2 linked regions of the Homo sapiens genome follow. The protein of the gene in region 2 purifies or fractionates together with the protein of the main gene of each other region. This does not show direct contact. Each region holds a gene or a part of one and is shown on either strand. Other genes may lie near its edges. The genes, in order: ARL6IP5 and ZDHHC22.

What was found.
Region 1: the proteins of ZDHHC22 (region 2) and ARL6IP5 purify together in Homo sapiens (affinity purification with mass spectrometry; one large-scale study listed by BioGRID and IntAct). This does not show direct contact.

What each region holds. Positions count from the first base shown.
Region 1 is NC_000003.12:69,098,204-69,102,012, reverse strand, and holds part of ARL6IP5 (PRA1 family protein 3), read right to left. Parts: intron 175-3,809; coding exon 1-174. UniProt on the Homo sapiens protein: Regulates intracellular concentrations of taurine and glutamate. Negatively modulates SLC1A1/EAAC1 glutamate transport activity by decreasing its affinity for glutamate in a PKC activity-dependent manner.
Region 2 is NC_000014.9:77,138,895-77,143,457, reverse strand, and holds the start of ZDHHC22 (palmitoyltransferase ZDHHC22), read left to right. Parts: upstream 1-1,666; 5' UTR 1,667-1,855; intron 1,856-2,713; exon of another isoform or gene 2,714-2,915; intron 2,916-3,705; 5' UTR 3,706-3,719; coding exon 3,720-4,245; intron 4,246-4,563. UniProt on the Homo sapiens protein: Palmitoyltransferase that could catalyze the addition of palmitate onto various protein substrates and be involved in a variety of cellular processes. Catalyzes the palmitoylation of KCNMA1, regulating localization of KCNMA1 to the plasma membrane.

The sequences.
Region 1 (3,809 bases), on a different chromosome or scaffold from region 2:
CCAAACATGGAGATAAGGAAATAGCTCGCCAACATGACCACCATAACGAACGTCGTGGGGTAGCGCTTCTTCATCCGGCGAAGGACGTCTTTATTGTGGGCTGCCCACACAAACCCTGTGAACACCAGCACCACCACGATTCCTCCCAGGATCATGTTGAAGGGACTCAGAAACCTGAAATATGAGGAAGAAAAAATGAGGGGTGACTAGTTCAGCAATAGAAGTAGCAAAAGGAGAAAGAGGAGTAAAAACAATTATTGAGAACTTACTAATACTTTAATACTTTATCTAAATTGTCTCATTTGATTTCTCATAACCTTATAAAGGAGATACTATTAGTTCATTTCTCAAATGAAGAAGCTAAGGCACAGAGGTTAGAAAATGGTGGGGAAGGCCAGGAATGGTAGTTCACACCTATAATCCCAGCACTTTCAGAGGCCAAGGTGGGAGGATCACTTGAGCCCAGGGGTTCAAGACCAACCCAGGCAACATGGCAAAACCCATCTCTACAAAAATATGAAAATTAGCCAGGTGTGGTGGCACACACCTGTGTTCCCAGCTACTCAGGAGGCTGAGGTGGGAGGATCACTTGAACCTGGGAGGTTGAGTCTCCAGTGAGCCAAGATTCCCCCACTGCACTCCTGGCTGGGTGACAGAGTGAGACCTTATCTCATTAAAAAAAAAAAAAAAAAAAAAGGTGGAGCTGAGATCACACCCAGGCAGTTCCCATCAAAGTATCTCGTTAGAGGTCCACAATTTTGAAGACTAAAACTTCTTTTGAAGGTACTATGTTTAGCTTCCTTACATCCTGGGCTCTAGTACACAGTAGGTTGTGTTTTCTTAGCTCTAAAGGTTTATTTAAATCCTCAGAGAAGCTCATGATGGACGAATGTAGAATACAGGCCACATAATGGCCTCCATGGGCTAGATCCAGTATACAGTCACATTTTTGTTTGGCCTGTACAGTGTTTTAAAAAACTTTTACTTGAAACCCATGTGTTAAAAAAAAATCCAGAAAACTTGGGATTTCTTGTTCTCCTGGAACAAGAAAATAACAGTGCTAGGCCCACTTTCCCACATGTCAACAGCTGGCTTGAGTGCCTTCTCATTCAGACAGAATAAACAGTCTCCATTGAGCTCCAGTCCACACTGCTCTCTACTGCATCATGGACACATAGGCCCAAAGTGAGGTGCTATTAATCACTGTTTTTCTTTTTTTTTTTTTTTTATTTGAGACAGAGTCTTGCTCTGTCACCCAGGCTGGAGTGCAGTGGCGCAATCTTGGCTCACTGCAACCTCTGCCTCCTGGGTTCAAGCAATTCTTGTGCCTCAGCCTCCCGAGTAACTGGGATTACAGGTACATGCCACCACGCCCAGCTAATTTTTTGTATTTTCAGTACAGGTGGGATTTTGCCATGTTGGCCAGGCTGGTCTTGAACTCCTGGCGTCAAGTGATCTGCCCAGCTCGGCCTCCCAAAGTGCTAGGATTACAGGCATGAGCCACACCATGCCCAGTCTAATCATTGTTTTTCTAATAGCTGGCCTGAATCGCTCTCTTACATAACCTGCCTGCCCCATGGAGGCATTTGAGTTTATGACTCCTCACATAGAGAGTTCATTATAAGTGTTTTAAAATGCCCAAAGTATCATTAGGAGATGAGTTACCAATGCAGATTTTCAAGCACACAGTTCCAGATTCATTCTTATATAAGCCAAATGTTTAGTATGTAATAGCAATTACACTACTATTGATAATGGAGGAAACACATTATGTAGAAGAAATTTATGCCAGGCATGGTGGCACACACCTGTAATCCTAGCACTTTGGGAGGCCTAGGTGGGTGGATCACCTGAGGTCAAGAGTTCAAGGCCAGCCTGGCCAACATGGTGGCACCTCATCTCTACTAAAAATACAAAAATTAGCTGGGCGTGGTGGTACATGCCTGTAATCCCAGCTACTTGGGAGGCTGAGGCAGGAGAATCACTTGAACTCAGAAGGTGGAGGTTGCAGTGAGCTGAGATCACGCCATTGCACTCCAGCCTGGGCAACAAGAGCAAAACTCTGTCTCAATAATGATAATAAGAAGAAGAAATTTAGACAAAGTTTTGGGCATTATAGTCGCCCACCCCAATCCACTGTGTATACAAAACCCTTAACAAGACGTCTGTGGTGGGCTGGTACAATGAGTTACTTAACTTTTTACCCTAGAGGCTAATGAGGACTTTACTTGGGAAGGACACAGACGATAGTGTGTTCTCCTCATGCCCTGAATAGTAACATTGCTGATTTGAAATGAGGGAAGGGGGAAGACAGGATAAGGGAGGGTGATGCCAAGAGCTTACTTTCTCTGAAATGGAAGAGATGAAGAACTCATGCTCATATTGGGATTCGTATTCAGGATAAATACAATTCTTTTTCAAAAATCCCTTTAAATTTTAGCTCTGTTTCTGCCTACTGAAACATAAAAGGAATTTTGAACATTTTAAAATTAAGAGTAAAAGCTTTTCACACCTGAATGGGTGAAATTAAGGGATAAAATCAATGTCAAACTGCTTTGAAAAAGCTAAAAATTTCTATTAAGATGCACAAAGCTAAACAGTGGTAAGAGTAGTTGCATATAATTTTTTTTTGTTTGTTTTTTTGAGATGGAGTTTCACTCATTGCCCAGGCTGGAGTACAATGGCGCGATCTCGGCTCACTGCAACCTCTGCCTCCCAGGTTCAAGCAATTCTCCTGCCTCAGCCTCCCTACTAGCTGGGATTACAGGCACCCGCCAACATGCCCAGCTAATTTTTGTATTTTTAGTAAAGACGGGGTTTCACCATGTTGGCCAGGCTGGTCTCGAACTCCTGACCTCATGTGATCCACCCCCCACCCCCCCCGCCCCTCAGCCTCCCAAAGTGCTATTACAGGCATGAGCCACCGCACCCAGCCAGTTGTACATAATTTAAAACTAAACTCTACAATAATAAGTTGCTAATTTCATTCAAAATCCTTGCAAATACTTGTATCCTTCAAGCCAATAAATCCCCTCCTCAGAATATAGTCTAAGGAATTAAACAAAAACGCAAAGATTGAGTTGTAACAGTATTGATATTAGTGGTATTTATGATTAAAAACTTTCAGAAACGACCTATATGGCCAACAATACCAATAGCTGTGGTATTGTATACACAGCTATTTTTAAAACATTGAAGTGCATTTAATAATATGGGAAGACATTATATATTGAGTGGGTAAAAGCAATTGTAATACATAATGCATTGTCTGTTAGGTAGATTTATCATATAAGTTAGATAGCTCAGAAGTAGAAGTTTCTAGGCTGAGTACAGTGGCTCAAGCCTGTAATCCCAGCACTTTGTGGGGGCCAAGGTGGGTGGATCTTTTGAAGTCAGGAGTTTGAGACCAGCCTGGCCAACGTGGTGAAACCCCACCTCTACTAAAAATACAAAAATTAGCTGGGCCTGGGCTGGGCATGGTGGCTCATGTCTGTAATCCCAGCACTTTGGGAGGCTGAGGCGGGCAGATCACCTGAGGTCAGGAGTTCAAGACCAGCCTGGCCTACATGGTAAAACCCTGTCTCTACTAAAAATACAAAAAATTAGTTGGGCTCGGTGGCGGGAGCCTGTAATCTCAGCTACTCGGAGGCTGAGGCAGGAGAATTGCTTGAACCTGGGAGGCGGAGGTTGTAGTGAGCCGAGATGGTGCCATTGCACTCCAGCCTGGGCAACAAGAGCAAAACTATGTCTCAAAAAAAAAAAAAAAAAAAAAGCCAGGTATGGTGGCAGGCACCTGTAGTCCCAGTTAC
Region 2 (4,563 bases):
GCAAAATAAAATTAGAAATACCACCCGACTCACAAGGTATTTGGGGAATGGAGATCTTCAGTCAGTATACCCAAACCCAAGCACCCCAGCCAGCCTCCCTCCCTGCCAAGCCCATGTGAGAGGCAGACAGAGCTTGTGAAAAGGGGCCCAGACGGCCACGATTATGAGACAAAGCTGCTCTGAAGGGAAAAGGGCCATGTGTGCCTCCCCATGTCTGTCCTGTGGCCACTGGAACTCACAAGGCTACCAGCTGCTCACGGCCACCATGTGGCATATACTGTTCTTTCACTTACATGTCAGATCCTTTTAGAATGTGAAAAGGTTTCCTGGCCTCTTTTTTATTTTGATGTATGCTGATAAATTACAGAGGAAACAGTGTGTGGTTATTCAAGAATAGAGGCTGAGCTGATCAGCATATGGCCCTCATTTCAAGGGATTGCTCTTGTTTTAATCAGCCAGTTGAGAAAGCAATAAATGTTTATTTATTAAGTATGCCATCACCGAGAGGAGAGGAACAGGGCAGGTAGGTGAGCTGCGACACCCAGGAAATTGAGGATGGTGATGGCACCAATATTCCTGCAGTGTTTGATGTTTTTAAGGCTCTGCTCCCCCCACCCCCCACTGTTTGATACACATTGGTGTCACTACCCTCTTGGCGCATCACAGTACCCACCTTAGAATAGCGGAGCCCTGGAAGGGGAAGGAAATAGAAATAAGAAGGTGGGGGTGAGGCTCAAAGAAGAAGCTCCAAGTTCAAGCTCTGTGTCTGGATAAACTCCCATTGTCTTTCCTTCTCTCAAATCAGAGCTGCCCGTGGGTCCCAGGGTGATGCTGGGCTGTGTAGAGGCTGAGTGCAGGAGCATTAATGCTAGAACCAGGTTCAAGTCCAGGCTCTGTCACTTAATGGCTGTATGACCTTAGACATGAGACTTAGCTTCTCTGAGCTTCAACCTCCTCATCTCCAGAATGGGGCTCAGCCAGCTTCACAGATCAGGCTGAGAGGATTAAGGAAGCATCTTATGCTAAAGGCTTAGCACAATGCCTGCTACCTAGTAGGGGCCCGATAAGTAGTGTCTAATTATGATCTAATCAAGCAGTGCTTGCCCTGGGCAGGCCCTGTTTAAGGGTTTTACATAGATTGTCATTTAACCCTCATATCTCTATTTCACAGATGAGGAAACTGGAATCTAAGATCACACTGGAATTTACAGACGAAGAAACTGGAATCTGAGATCTCACAGTAGTGAATGGTGAATATTCAAACCCAGGTAGACAGGCTCCAGAGTCCCAACTCCCAACCCTCTGTACACAGCCCTTCCGAGGAGATGACGCTGATCTTCATGGGTGTTGCCCTGGCAAGCTGACCTCTCAAGCCCCCAGGGTTCCTTCAGTCCGAGTGGAGAGCAGGGAAGGTCGTGGGACCTAGCCGAGAGGGAAGGGCAGGATGATGGCTGGAGAATCCACATCAGGGCTGAATCCCAATCTCCCAGCTGGAACGGGCGCTGAAACCAGGCAGGGCGCCCCAGCCCGCTCAAGGGGAATCGAGAGGGGAGGAGGGGGCAAGTCCACGATGCTGAGACTGGCGGCCAGAGCACCGCCCCCAGGAGCGGAGGGAGGGGTGGCGGGGCTGGGGGGTGCCCAGCTGCCATCCCCGCCGCTTCCTGGCCCTTACTCGCTGGCGCCCAAGTGGGAAGCCAGCAGCTGCCCGCTCCCTCCTCCCCACATCCCCGCTACTTGCCCAGTTCCCGAAGCGAAGCGCAGGCTGCGAGCCAGCCGGGCCGAGTCCACAACTTTGCAGCCTCGGGCAGGGCGAGAGCCGGCGTCCGGGGCTCCTCTTGTCGGCGACCAGAGCTCGGTGAGTTGATTTCCTCACCCCTCTGCGACGGCGGCAGTGCGGCGGCGGCGGCGCGGGGGGCGGCTTCCCGTGCGTCCGGGAGGCAGTGGCCGAGAAGCCCGCGGCTGCCGGCGCTGCCGGTCTTTCCAAGGCTCCGGCTGTGCCGCCCTCTGCCGCGGGCGAGGCGGGCGCCAGGGCTGAACGGACAGCTCCCTACACCCCGGGGCCCCACGGGCGGTCTCTGCTGTCCCTTCTCCCGCGCAGGGCCAGGGCTGAGGCTGCCTGCCGAGCGCCCCTCACTCCCCTAGCCCCTGTCCTTCGCCGCCTTCCCAGCGCTGCGGCGCATCTGGCTGCTCCCGCGCCCCCCTGGCGACCGGCGCCGGGAAGGCACTTGCTTCGCCGGAGCCCCAGGCCGAGGGCTCTCTGGGGTGGGCAGCACCGCCGCAGCCCCCGGCGGCGCAGGACTGGGGGCGTGCCCAGCCCCCGGCGACCACCCTCAGGCGTGCACTGCGCTGCGCCCCAGCGGTAGGGAGAGGCCCACGCTCTCCGCGGAGGCTGCGGGTTCCCGGGGGGCGCTGGGACCTGCAAAGGGGATTCCAAGGTGACCAGTCGACCCGTGCGGACGGGACAGCCTGGACGGAGGCCCCGTGGCATCCACCCATCCTAGGTGCAACCGCCTTCCCAGAACTTTTCTCGCGCCTCCGGCTGGCCGATTCCTTAGCCCCTGGAAAAGTTCTCTCGGGCGCACGGAATCCTATTTCTCGGTGGCTTCCGAAGCTGGCCAGGAACCCCGGCTGTGAGGCGTGGGGTGGGATGGGGACGTGGTGAGGGCTGAGCACGGCGGCGGGGTCGATCCCAGGAAAGGCTGGCCAAGCATCCACTCGTGCGCCCAGGGCGGGCTTGTCGGCATGGAAAGGATTTCGGCGCCATGAGGGTTGTTTGGGTTTCTCTCAGCAGGAGGGCGGGAGGCGGGCGCGAAGGGGGGATTTTAATTTCGCCTCAAATGAAAACGCTCTTCGCAAAGAAATAGCCCGGGCAGCCAGCGTTGGAGAGATGTGCTGGCCAGGACCCGCTGACACAGGTATTCTGGTTGCGCCCCCACCTCACCCGGTGCCCGAGAGCGAGTGTGAGTGTATCGATTGTTTCAATTGATTTTTTTAAAGCTAGATAGCAGAGGCTGCGTGTCTGTACACGCAGATATATACATACACAAATACAGATACTCAAGCGCACACAGATTACACGTACAGAGTCACAGACAAGGACACACACACACACATCGTGGTCCCTCACGCACACATACCTCCAAAGAGCCTTGGGTAACCTGGTGAGGTCCCTGAGTGCTGCCCAAGATGTGTGTGTGGGTGGGGACGCAGGGACGGAGAAAGGGGAGTGTGAAGCAGGATTTCCAGCAGGTCAAGTGCCGCTGATTCTCCTGCCCCCGACCCCAAATCCTTCCCTTTCTCCTCCTAGGGAGGTCTGAACCAGAAATCCCAAACCTGGGCTTGTTTCCACATCCACAGAGGGGAGGAGTCCTATCCCCCGGTGCCCCCCACCCTCACAACTCCTAAAGACTGCAAACGAGTCCCTCCCTCCTGTGCCAGACTCTGCCGCGCCAAGGCGCCGAGCTCGCTCAAAACCCCAGGCAACACTCACCCCCAGGTGGGGCCTAGACCCGAGGCCGCTGCGGGCTCGGGTCTCTGGCCTGCCTGATCCGGGGTTAGGGAACTGGGGAGGGGAAATCCGCGGGACAGGGGGTTGGGGGCGTGGAGTCGCGTGCAGTGCCCCAGACGCGCGGCACGGAGGAGCGGGCGAGGGCGCCCCCTGGACGCCGTAGTCAGTCAGTCCTCTTCTCACCCCGGGCCCCGCAGGAATGTAATCGAGGATGCTGGCCCTGCGGCTGCTCAACGTGGTGGCCCCCGCCTACTTCTTGTGCATCTCCCTGGTGACCTTCGTGCTGCAGCTCTTCCTCTTCCTGCCCAGCATGCGCGAGGACCCCGCGGCCGCCCGGCTCTTCTCGCCCGCCCTGCTCCACGGGGCGCTCTTCCTATTCCTCTCGGCCAACGCCCTGGGCAATTACGTCCTTGTCATCCAGAACTCCCCAGACGACCTGGGGGCCTGCCAGGGGGCCTCGGCCAGGAAGACTCCATGCCCCTCACCTAGCACCCACTTCTGCCGAGTGTGCGCCAGAGTCACCCTGAGGCACGACCATCACTGTTTCTTCACCGGCAACTGCATCGGCAGCAGGAACATGCGCAACTTCGTCCTGTTCTGCCTCTACACCTCCCTGGCCTGCCTCTACTCCATGGTGGCCGGCGTGGCCTACATCTCCGCTGTCCTTTCCATCTCCTTCGCCCACCCCTTGGCCTTCCTCACGCTCCTGCCCACCTCCATCAGCCAGTTCTTCTCCGGTGAGTGGGCCTTGGCGGGCAGGTTGGGCTCTACACAAAGACCTCCCACCCCAAAGGTTGCCGGGCCCCAAACCCCAACCCCAAAAGTTGCCAGATTTAGCAAATAAAAATACAGACCGTCCCGCTAAATTAAAATTTCAGATAAACAACTCATAATTTTTTAGTATAATTATGTCCCAGATATTGTATGAGATACACTGAGAAAATTTGCTATTGGCTATCTGAAATGCAAATTAAGCGGACATGCTGTATTTTATTGGTAACATCCCCCCTTGCCCCCATCATTCTCATCCATCATGCTGTCCATATGCTCACAGA